Regions from separate parts of the Homo sapiens genome. Here region 2 is linked to region 1. Evidence: fine-mapped expression QTL. A gene starts in region 1. The other region holds a variant in brackets. All regions are shown on one strand. Distances are from middle to middle. Region 1 holds the start of CD2BP2-DT (CD2BP2 divergent transcript). Region 2 has its middle 7.6 kb from the start of MAPK3.

Region 1 (5,365 bases):
CTGGTGGCTACAAGGATAAAGAATCTGAGGTCCTGAAAGCCAAAGACCTAAGAGGAATCGAACAAGAAACCTGGGAGAGGAGCACAGAGCAGCGCAGTTGGGGGTGTTTACACGGCAAGCAGAGTCCAGGCAGGGAGGCCACAGGATACCTGACAGGCACCTCCAAGAAGGATCTTCATGGGAGTACTCAGGGACCAAGACAAGTCCAAAGGGACTGTGGAGAAGGCCCCTGGCTTCTGGCCATCAGCACAGCCAAGGCCCCAGTACACAACTAAAGGCTTTTATTGGGAAAGGGAAATTGACTGAAAAATGGCCTCCAATTTCCTCGCTGCCTGAGACACTTGGTGCCTCCTCCACAAAGTCCAGGAAAGAAGGGCCCACCAAACTGGGCCCCCAGCAGGCTCAGGTGTAGAGGTCAAAGTCAATGCGTTTGGAGTTGTAGAACTGACCACCAGGGGGGTCCAGCTTCCGGCAATAAACACCGTCCGGGAAGTAGCCTTCACTCACCCAGGTCTGCAAGGAGAGGGCAGAGCTGGGGAACAACTGACAGGAGTGGGGGAAGCAGGGACAAGGCAGGAGGAGGGAGAAAGCAGCTCACCTGCATCTGGGCGCTGGTGAAGGGCCCATACAGCTCGGCATCCCCCGTGTTCTCCCACTTATATTCCCACATCACATCCACCAGACCATCTCCCCGCGACTCTGCTTCTAAAATAACAGGCAAAGCCATTTGGCCTCCAGTGTCTCACTTCCTACCCACTGCCCCCTCCTCTGTCCTCCAAGCTCACCTCCTCTCTGGGTAGGGGTTGGGGTCTCCAGTTCCTCCTCCGCCAACTCCTCAGCGAACATGTCCAGGGAGGGTGGGGGTGTGGGATTGTGGGGTCCTAGGGTCTGACACCCCAAACCCTTCAGACGCATAGCCAACCGTTCCCTTGTTTCCTGGTACACACCAAGGTTGCCCCGGGCCACCATCTGGTCGGCCAACCCGGAGAGCCGGTCCAGGCGCTGAGGGGAACTGGGTTGCCCAGGCCCCTTTCTCCCTTTGCCTCCTCCTCGGGCCCCCAGACGCCTCAGTGCCCCAGCCACTGTCTCTCTAGGCAATAGGAGCTCCAAAAGTCCCTCCAAGAGGGCTTGGGCACTCATTGAGGTCTGGCCCAAGCTGTCCTCCTCCTCCGAGTCTGAGGCCTGGCGCTGGCCAGGTGGCCGCTCCCGGATCTTCACCTGTAATGGGAAGATGGAGTGATTTCCCACCAACTGCCACGGGAGCAGGCCCAGCATCTGCCACTCCCAGGCCCCAGCCACGCCAGCCCCTGGGCCGCACCCAGTCAATGTTGTCCAGCCAGCTGTCTCGGATCTGAGCATCCCGGTTCAGGAAGTAGTTGCCATCGGCATCAAAGTGGCCTTCCTCCATCTCCTCCTGCAGGTTAAAGGGTGTGATCCGAACACCCCCCTCGCTGGGGAGTGTGGCTGCCTCCTGACCTGCACCAAAGACACAGGTGCCCTTTTCCAGGCATGGAAAAAAGAGACCGGAGCCTCCCTCGCTCCACACCACCAGAGGCCCCTACTTGTTTTTCCAGCAGAGTGTATTCTTGGGTACAGCTTACCTTCTACATCCTCTGAGGCCAAGATGTCATATTTGCTGGACCCCCCATCATCATCATCCTCCTCCTCATCGCTATCCAAAGAGTGTTTGCCTTTAAAGCGGCTCCCAGGACCCCCTGACCCAGCCACAGGGTCCACCAGCTGTGAGCAGGAGCCAGAAAGTTGAGAAATGCAGGTTACTGGCTACCTCCCCAAATACTTCCGGATCTGGACCCAAATATTCCCCAAATATTTCAGGATCTCGACTACTTCCCCAAATATTTCAGGAGCCACACTAAAGACGCTCCCAACCCATTCCTCAGAGAACCTGAAAAAACTAGGCTTTTCTCTGCCTGCCCGCCCCGCCCCTCTCCCGCCAGCTTTCTTCCTCTTCAGGCTTCTAGCTCCTCTTTCCCCCACACAAAGCAGTCTGGCCCCCTCACCTTCTTCTTGGGGACAATGATTTCATCCTCATCCTCCTCATCTCCCACGCCTTGGAAGGTCACTTTCCTCTTTGGCATGACGGGGCAAAGAGGTGTTTCTCAAGCTGAGGAAAGGATGCAGAGGAAGGGAACCGGGTGAGGAGGGGACTCGCCAACAGACGCAGCACAGCAAACATTTTTCCTGGTCTGTGACAGGTACAGTTTGGGAGCGGAGGGAGCACAAAAGCAGGGGCCGAAAGGAAGCTGGCAGCCAGGAGGCCTCCAGGACTTGGGTCTAGCATCCGCGAGTTAAACGGGGCGGGGACGGAGGAGCGGACCCTCTGGATCCCCCGACCCTGGCTGAAAGGAGACAGGCTTCACCACGTGACCGCCCCCAACTCCAGCCCCCGCAGTCTGCGCGCCACCGGCTCCACGGGCTGACCCCCGCTCTCTACCCTGGCTCTCTCGGAGCTCGCCGGGCCCCGGCAGACCCAGGACCTGGCGCTCTCGCCACCCCGTTCCTCCCTGCTCCGAACTCCCAATTCCGTGTGGTGAGCCCCAACTGTCCCGGGCTGTGTACAACTTAGAGGGCCACGGGGATTCGGGCGGTCCCACCCTCGCGCACTCACCTGGGAATCCGCGGAAGGCGAGGTGGAAAAAAGAAGAGATGCTTGCGCCAGGGCTACATCCGGGGCACCCGGCCGCCATCACCCGGAAGAGGACTGCGGAAGGCGCCCGGGAAGCCCGGAAGTGGCTTCACTCGGGTTAGGGAACTAACTGGAAGAGCGGGCGGAAGTATGCGATAAGCGAGCGAAGACGCCTCCACCCTCTCTCCCGCCAGAAGTGACGTCAGTCACGTGGGAGGACAATGGTGAGAAGAGGGAACCTAAGAATTCCTGGACTCTGACTGGGCGTGAGAAATGGCCGGAAGTAGCTTCGAGTCCGTCATTCAAGCAGTAGAGGCTCTGGAGAAAAACTGGAGCGCATCTGCTTAAAGGGCCGCCCAGGGTCAGGATGGAGGGGCAAAGTCCGAGCAGGGTCAGTGGGTTGCTGCTCCGTTTTCCTGTCCTGGGTTCAAGTCACCCTTCCCCCAGGGCTAAGGGCTCAGCGCCCCTACCGTCTCGTTAGAAATCCTGCCTTCCCATTCCTATGGTCCAGTGGTCAGCCCTCCTAGCCTGAGAGGTGCAGCCTTGCCTCTCCGAGGGGAAGCCTGACTCTCCCGATGGCCAGCCTGGGGCCCCTGGACGGCTCTCCGGGCACTTTCTGAACACACCTCCCTTTAGGACCCAGGGGAAATAATTTGTCCCACGCCCATACCCTGGGCGAGTTCCTGGTTTCTGAGGTGGGAGAGCCATCACTGGAGAGGTGGCATTGGCGCCAGTACTCAGGCCAGAAGCCCCTTGTGCCCTGCTCTCAGGTAGGCCTGGAAAAGGGCAACAGTGCCTCTCTGCAGCATGAAGCCCCCCTGAGCAAACAGGGCCTAGCAACTCCTGCCCAGGTAGCGGAATGTGGCCCAAGCAGAAGGGGGAATTGGGGAGGTAGCGGGGATCAGCCCCTGTGCTGGGACCCCTAGCTCTTGACACTCGGAGCCTGCATCCCCCTAAGCCAAGACTGTGCGCAGGCAGCACGTGCTGAAGCCAGACGAGGACAGCATGAGAGTTCCCCTACTCTTCCCCCAGGCAACTAGATGGGCCACTTCTCTCTCCCTAGGGGTTTCCTCCCATATTGGATCACGATGAAAACTGCACAGAAAGTCCGTGCTCAGTTTCTTCCATGGTTACAGAACACAGGCCCCAGACCAGGAAGGCATTCTGCTAAAGAAGGGGACCCGAAACCTCAGCTACCAGCGCCGATGGTTCATCCTCCGAGGAAACCTCCTCTTCTACCTAGAACACTAGACCGACCATGCACCCCTGAGCCTCATCCTGTTAGAGAACTGCCAGGTGGAACCACACCTTAAGGCTGCAGAACCCTATGCCTTTACCATCCTGACCCCTGGGGTGGAGGGCACAGGTGGGCGGGCCTACAAGCTGGCTGCAGAAACCCAGGAAGAGCTGGAGACTTGGCTGTGGGCACTGGCTGGCGCGAGCTGGAGGCGGCTGGCTGGGCTGCTGTCCCCCCTCCCCCCCCACCAAAACCCAATACTGGGAGCTGTGCCAGGCAACTGGCCAAGAACCCATCTCATCCCCAGAGGACAGTGGCTTTCTAGCCACTGTGAGTACCCCCTCCAGCTTCCAGGAGTTGCATGAGCACTTTGGGAAGGAGATCCGGGTGCTGCACGTGGTACATAGAGAGCTCCAGGCAGCCAGTGACAATGGAGACAGCAGATCCCAGGCAAAGATGGAGCAGGAGCTCAACCAGTGTCTGATGAGTGACTGAGAGATGGACCCAAAGCTAAGAGGTACCTACTTGCCAAGACAGCAGACTGCTTCAACAGAGACCCAGGTCCTGGCTCTGTCCCTCCCTCCCTCGTCCTTACCCCATCCCCCCCTCATCAAATAACAAGGCAGAAAACAGGCCCAGGTACAACAGCAGGTTCTTTTCCAATTCCTCAAAGCGCTGCATGGGGTGGGGGCAGAGACAGAAGAGAATGTAAACATTGGGTTCCACCCCCTGGAGCTCAAGGGAAGACCCTTACCCAGATAGGGACTAACTGGAGGGGTGGAAGGGAACAAGGTGAAAGGTATGGGTCCTGGTGAGACAAAAGCAGGGGGGCCTGAGAACACAGAGCAAGGTGGGTTTGGAGGGAGCACAGCAGGGTGCAGGAAGGGAGATGGGGGACATTTCCTATTCCAGTGCATGTCCCCTTAAATAAACTGGGTACAGGAGCATTATGGAAGGAGAACCAAAGGACAGAAGACAAAGCGAGCACCCCCACCCCAGGCCAACGCCATCCTCTGTACACAATTACAACACAGGTCCAGAATGAGAGCCCTGGCCAGGAAGTGGGGGAGACAGGGAGGGCTGAAGACAGGGAAAAGGAAGCCAGCTCCACCTCATGGTAAGGGGAGCTATGGAGTGTAAGAATCTGAAACTGCTGACTCCCATCACCAGGAGTCACCCCTGGGATGACAACGGGCCATTCAGGACAGCACCTAGGAGGGGACCCAGAGGGAACTGGGGCAGGAGCGACAGAGACCCCAGCTGAGCCTCATGGGAGATGAGAGGCTCCAGACTCATTTGCAGCTGCCCATCTGTCCTGCCCGTGTAGGGATCAGCAGCTGGCGAGGAGATGGGGAACCAAGCCACTTTCCCCAGCAAGGGACAGCCTGACAAGGTGCTAGGGGGTGGCACCTTGGGCCAGGCCTGTTCTTGGCTGAGGGAAAGAGGGGGGCCATGCAGTCCAGCCCCAGGGCAGAGGTCAG
Region 2 (5,365 bases), 220 kb before region 1:
AAGACACAGTTGGCTCCACTGACTCAAACAGTATCATTAGGACTTTGATCCCTCCCTTAGCTCAACTTTCTTCTGAGTTGGTTCCATTCTTAGCCACCCCCTCCTCTCAGAGTAGCCAGATGGAAGCTAGTACTTGCAGATTCGTGTCTGGTTTTTTCAGTAACTCCAGCAAGGGAAAGCTCTTCTCTCTCTGTCTCTCTTTCTCCCTGTCTCTGTCTCTTGTAATGCAAGGCCTAGATTTGACTCTTATTGGTTACTAGTTTTTTTGAGACAGAGTCTCCCTCTGTCACCCAGGCTGGAGTGCAATGGTGCGATCTTGGTTCACTGCAACCTCCACCTTCTGGGTTCGAGAGATTTTCCTGTTTCAGCCTCCCGAGTAGCTGGGATTACAGGCGCCCGCCACCACGCCCGGCTAATTTTTGTATTTTTAGTAGAGACGGGGTTTGGCCATGTGGGCCATGCTGGTCTCAAATTCCTGGCCTCAAGCGATCCACTCACCTCAGCCTCTGAAAGTGCTTTGATAACAGGCATGAGCCACCGTGCCTGGCCAGTTACTAGTTTTGTTTGAAGCCTGTGCAAATCCTTCAACCTGAATCAGTGTGGAATTGGGGGTTTAGTTATCTCTACTGGCATGACATAAAGTAGGCTAGGGAAGGGATGGTTTTCCCAAGGAAAATTCGGGCACCATCCCCAGAAAGTGCTGAGCAGACAGTTACAGCAGTGTCTATTATAATATATATATTTTTAATTCCTCCCCCCACCTTTTTTTTTTTGAGGCAAGGTCTCGCTCTGTCCCCCAGGCTGGAGTGCAGTGGCACCATCATGGCTCACTGTAGACTCGACCACCCAGGCTCAGGCAGTTCTCTAGCTTCAGCCTCCCAAGTAGCTAGAACTACAGGCACACAACACCATGTCCAGCTAATTTTTGTATGTATATATATATATATATATATTTTTTTTTTTTGTAGAGATGGGGTTTTGGCATGTTGCCCAGGCTGGTCTCAAGCTCCTGGGCTTGAGACCAGTCCTCCCCACCAGCCTCCCAAAGTGCTGGGATTACAGGTGTGAGCCACTGCTCCTGGCCTAATTCCTCTCATTAACTACCAAATGAAGTCCACCACCCCTGGCTAATTTTAAAAAATTATTTAGGAGATAGGGGTCTCTCCATGTTGCTCAGGCTGGTCTCGAACTCCTGGCCTCAAGCAATCCTCTTGTTTCACCCTCCCAAGTAGCTGGGATTATAGATGCAAGCCACCATGTTCAGTTTAGATTGTACAATTTCTTTTCTTTTTTTCTTTTCTTTTTTTTTTTTGTTTGAGATGGAGTTTTGTTCTTGTTGCACAGGCTGGAGTGCAATGGCACGATCTTAGCTTATGGCAACCTCTGGCTCCCGGGTTCAAGTAATTCTCCTGCTTCAGCCTCCCGAGTAGCTGGGATTACAGGTATGCACCACCACGCCCGGCTAATTTTTTGTATTTTGTTTTAGTAGAGACGGGGTTTCTTCACGTTGGTCAGGCTGTTCTTGAACTCCCGACCTCAGCTGATCCTCCCGCTTCAGCCTCCCAAAGTGCTGGGATTACAGGCGTGAGCCACTGCGCCCGGCTAGATCGTACAATATCTTGAAGGCCATTATGCTGGTGTCTTCCCTTTGAAGCCCTCTTATATTTTGTTGGTGCAAAAGTAATTATGGGGTGGGCATGGTGGCTCACACCCATAATCCCAGCACTTTGGGAGGCCAAAGAGGGGTGGATTACTTGAAGTCAGGAGTTCAAGACCAGTCTTACCAATGTGGTGAAACCCTGTCTCTACTAAAAATACAAAATTAGCTGGGAAGACTAGTTTCCTAGACGGGGTTTCACCATGTTGTCCAGGCCGATCTCGAACTCCTGACCTTGTGATCCGCCCACCTCAGCCTCCCAAAGTGCTGGGATTACAGCCAGCCACCGCGAGCCACCGCGCCTGGCCTTATTTTTTATTTTATCTTTTTTAGAGACAGGATCTTGTTCTGTCACCTAGGCTGGAGTGCAGTGGCCTGATCATAGCTCACTGCAGCCTCGAACTCTTGGGTTTAAGTGATCCTCCCACCTCAGCCTCCTGAGTAGCTAGGACTACAGGCACACATACACCACCCCTGGTGGTGTGTGCCTGTAGTCCCAAACCAGTCTGAAAAGATAGATGTGGGGGCCAGGCGCAGTGGTGATGCGCGTCTGTAGTCCCAGCTACAGGACTGAGGCAGGAGAATTCCTTGAGCCTAGGATTTTTGTTTTGTTTTGTTTTTTTGAGACAGAATCTCGCTCTGTCGCCCAGGCTGGAGTGCAGTGGTAAGATCTCTCAGCTCACTGCAAGCTCCACCTCCCAGGTTCACGCTATTCTCCTGCCTCAGTCTCCCGAGTAGCTGGGATTACAGACGCCTGCCACCACGCCCGGCTAATGTTTTGTATTTGTAGTAGAGACGGGGTTTCACCGTGTTAGCCAGGATGGTCTCGGTCTCCTGACCTCATGATCCGCCTGCTTTGGCCTCCCAAAGTGCTGGTATTACAGGCGTGAGCCACCGCGCCTGGCATGAGCCTAGGAGTTCAAGGCTGCAGTGAGCTGTGATTGTGCCACTGCACTTCAGCCTGAGCGATAGAGCAAGACCTACAAAAAACAAACAAAACCCAAAACAGAATCACATGTAACACACAGCTGTGGACTGATTGGTTGACAAAAGTGTGGTGATCAGAGGCTGGCAGGAACTTCACCATGTATTTCCGCTAGAAGCAATGTTCAGTATTCTCTAATTCATTGTTTGTGGTGACTTTGGGGAATATAACCACCACAGAGACAAGAATCAACTTTGAATGTGTCATCCCACCACCTGCTGGCTTCCGTTGTTTCTGATGAGAAATCAACTGTCAATCTCATTGGAGTTTCCTTGTACGCGATGAGTTGTTTTTCTCTTGCTGCTGCCAAGAGTCTCTTTTTGTCTT[G/A]TTTGTTTATTTATTTATTTATCTAATTTATTTATTTTGAGATGGAGTTTCACTTTTGTTGCCCAGGCTGAGTGCAATGGCACAATCTCAACTCACTGCAACCTCTGCCTCCCGGGTTCAAGCAATTCTCCTGCCTCAGCCTCCTGAGTAGCCAGGACTACAGGTGTGCGCCACCATGCCCAGCTAATATTTGTATTTTTTTTTTTAAATTTTTTGAGATGGAGTCTCACTCTGTCCCCCAGGCTAGAGTGCAGTGGCGTGATCGTGGCTCACTGCAAACTCTGCTTCCCTGGTTCAAGCGATTCTCCTGCCTCAGTAGCTAGGATTACAGGCACATGCCACCACACCTGGCTAATTTTTTATTTTTAGTAGAGGCAGGGTTTCACCATGTTGGCCAGGCTGGTCACGAACTCCTGACCTCAGGTGATCCATCCACCTTGGCCTCCCAAAGTGCTGGGATTACAGGTGTGAACCGCTGTGCCCAGCCTAATTTTTGTATTTTTGGTAGAGTGGAGTTTCACTATGTTGGCCAGGCTGGTCTCGAACTCCTGACCTCAGGTGATCCACCTGCCTCGGCCTCCCAAGGGTTGGGATTACAGGTGTGAGCCACCATGCCTGGCCCTTGGGGTCTCTTTTTTTATGAACTGTCTGTCCCACTGGGCAAAGCCTCTGAGACCCTATTTTGGACACTGGTGGAGCAGTAGCCTCTGGTTTTCGTGGCTTGCCCCTCCTGGCATGGGATCTCTGTTCCACAAGCAAGCTGGGAGGAGTGTGATTATGGTCCCAGTATTCTTGGACTGTCACTGATGGTACAGCCTTCATTCTATGGTGTGGGCGAGTGCTGGGTGGAGGAGAAGAGTGCCCTACTTCTTTACCACGTTCACCAGAAATGTAGCCTCTTCAATTTGGAGTTGGAGGGGATGAAAACTGGTGGCAGCATGCTCCTCCTGGTGAGATATGGTAAGCCTTGATTGGCAGCTGAGGGGAGAGGGAGCTTGTCTTCTTGGCCACATCTACTCAGAGAGCAGTTTCCTTCCAGCTGAACTGTGGGGGGAGGGCAGTCAGGAGATAGTTGGTCCTCCTGGCTTAAATGCCACAGATGGCCTGGCACAGTGGCTCATAATGTTACAGGTAGTTAAACAGGCATGAGCAGGGCTGGAGAGGGCTCTTCCCCACCCACCAGGAATGTCAAGTGATGGTTCAACAATGATCACATTGCCTCTCTAAATAATTTGGCAGCCAGCGCCAGAGAGAGAGACAAGCTCCTGATGGTCCACAGCTGTTATGTTAGAGTGTTAATTGAATGCAGACACCAGGGAGAAGCAATTTCCTGGACATGTGCATTAAGAGACAAAATAGTCTGGGCACGGTGGCTCACACCTGTAATCCCAGCAATTTGGGAGACTGAGGCGAGCGGATCACCTGAGGTCAGGAGTTCAAGACCAGTCTGGCCAATGTGGTGAAACCCCCATCTCTACTAAAAATACAAAATTAGCCAAGCGTGGTGTTGGGTGCCTGATATCCCACCTACTCAGGAGACTGAAGGAGGAGAATTGCTTGAACCCAGGAGGTGGAGGTTGCAGTGAGCTGAGATCAGGCCACTACACTCCAGCCTGGGAAACAAGAGTGAAACTGTCTCAAAAAAAAAACAAACAAACAAAAAAGAAAGAGACAAAATGATGGAGCATGACCTTCCGGGGTCAGACCACCGGAAAAGGGAAGAAAACCTCAGATAGGCATGCATACAACTTCCTACACACACTGTGCATGCTCACCTTCCCAGGGTAAGGAGGCCACTGTGCATGCAGGCAGCCCATCCTAAGGGAAGAATCATGGGAAAGGAGCCAGCCTATAAAGTCCTAGGATCAAGGTTGAACACCACGCTTGACCTTGGTGCCCACTTGAGTCTCTTCCAAATGTACTTACCTTTCTTTCCCATTCTAAAGCCATTTAAAATAAACTTCCACTCCTGCTCTGAAACTTCCCTTGGTCTCTTTTTCTGCCTTATGCCCTGTGGTTCTTTCTTCTGTGGAGGCAAGAATTGAGGTTGCTGCAGACCCGTACAGATTTGTCACCGGTAACTTGGATAACCTTTCACCGATAACAATGCTTATAATCCCAGCACTTTGGGAGGCCGAGGTGGCAGGATAGCTTGAGCCCAGGAATTTGAGACCAGCTTGTGCAACATAGTGAAACCCCATCTCTACAAAATAATAATAATAAAAGTAATAAAATTCAATGCCACAGATTCTCCCTGTTCTTACTGAGTTTTAGTAGATTTTCTTGAATAAGAAAGTGAGCCAAGATTGCACCACTGCACTCCAGCCTGGGCAACAGAGCAAGACTCCATCTCAATAAAAAATAAAATTAAATGTTTATTCATCTGTTATATGACA

Evidence for each region.
Region 2: its variant is fine-mapped to the expression of CD2BP2-DT in whole blood (INTERVAL, PIP 0.94).

Annotation. Positions count from the first base shown.
Region 1 is chr16:30,352,583-30,357,947 of GRCh38, forward strand. It overlaps CD2BP2-DT (CD2BP2 divergent transcript), which reads left to right and starts at 2,852. Exons shown (of 2, transcript NR_184233.1): 1 at 2,852-3,038; 2 at 3,711-5,365. CD2BP2 (CD2 cytoplasmic tail binding protein 2) reads right to left here and starts at 2,726. Exons shown (of 7, transcript NM_006110.3): 1 at 2,630-2,726; 2 at 2,022-2,125; 3 at 1,602-1,740; 4 at 1,319-1,476; 5 at 786-1,218; 6 at 599-705; 7 at 1-513. The coding sequence starts at 2,099. The coding sequence ends at 403. It overlaps TBC1D10B (TBC1 domain family member 10B), which reads right to left. Exons shown (of 9, transcript NM_015527.4): 9 at 4,520-5,365. The coding sequence ends at 5,362. RefSeq lists enhancers at 1,740-2,691, 1,776-2,975, 2,666-2,960, 2,692-3,643, 2,698-2,757 and 1 more.
Region 2 is chr16:30,128,106-30,133,470 of GRCh38, forward strand. No RefSeq gene overlaps it. Among named protein-coding and RNA genes, the nearest start is that of MAPK3, 7.6 kb to the left of the region's middle. The variant G/A (reference allele first, on the strand shown) is at 2,970.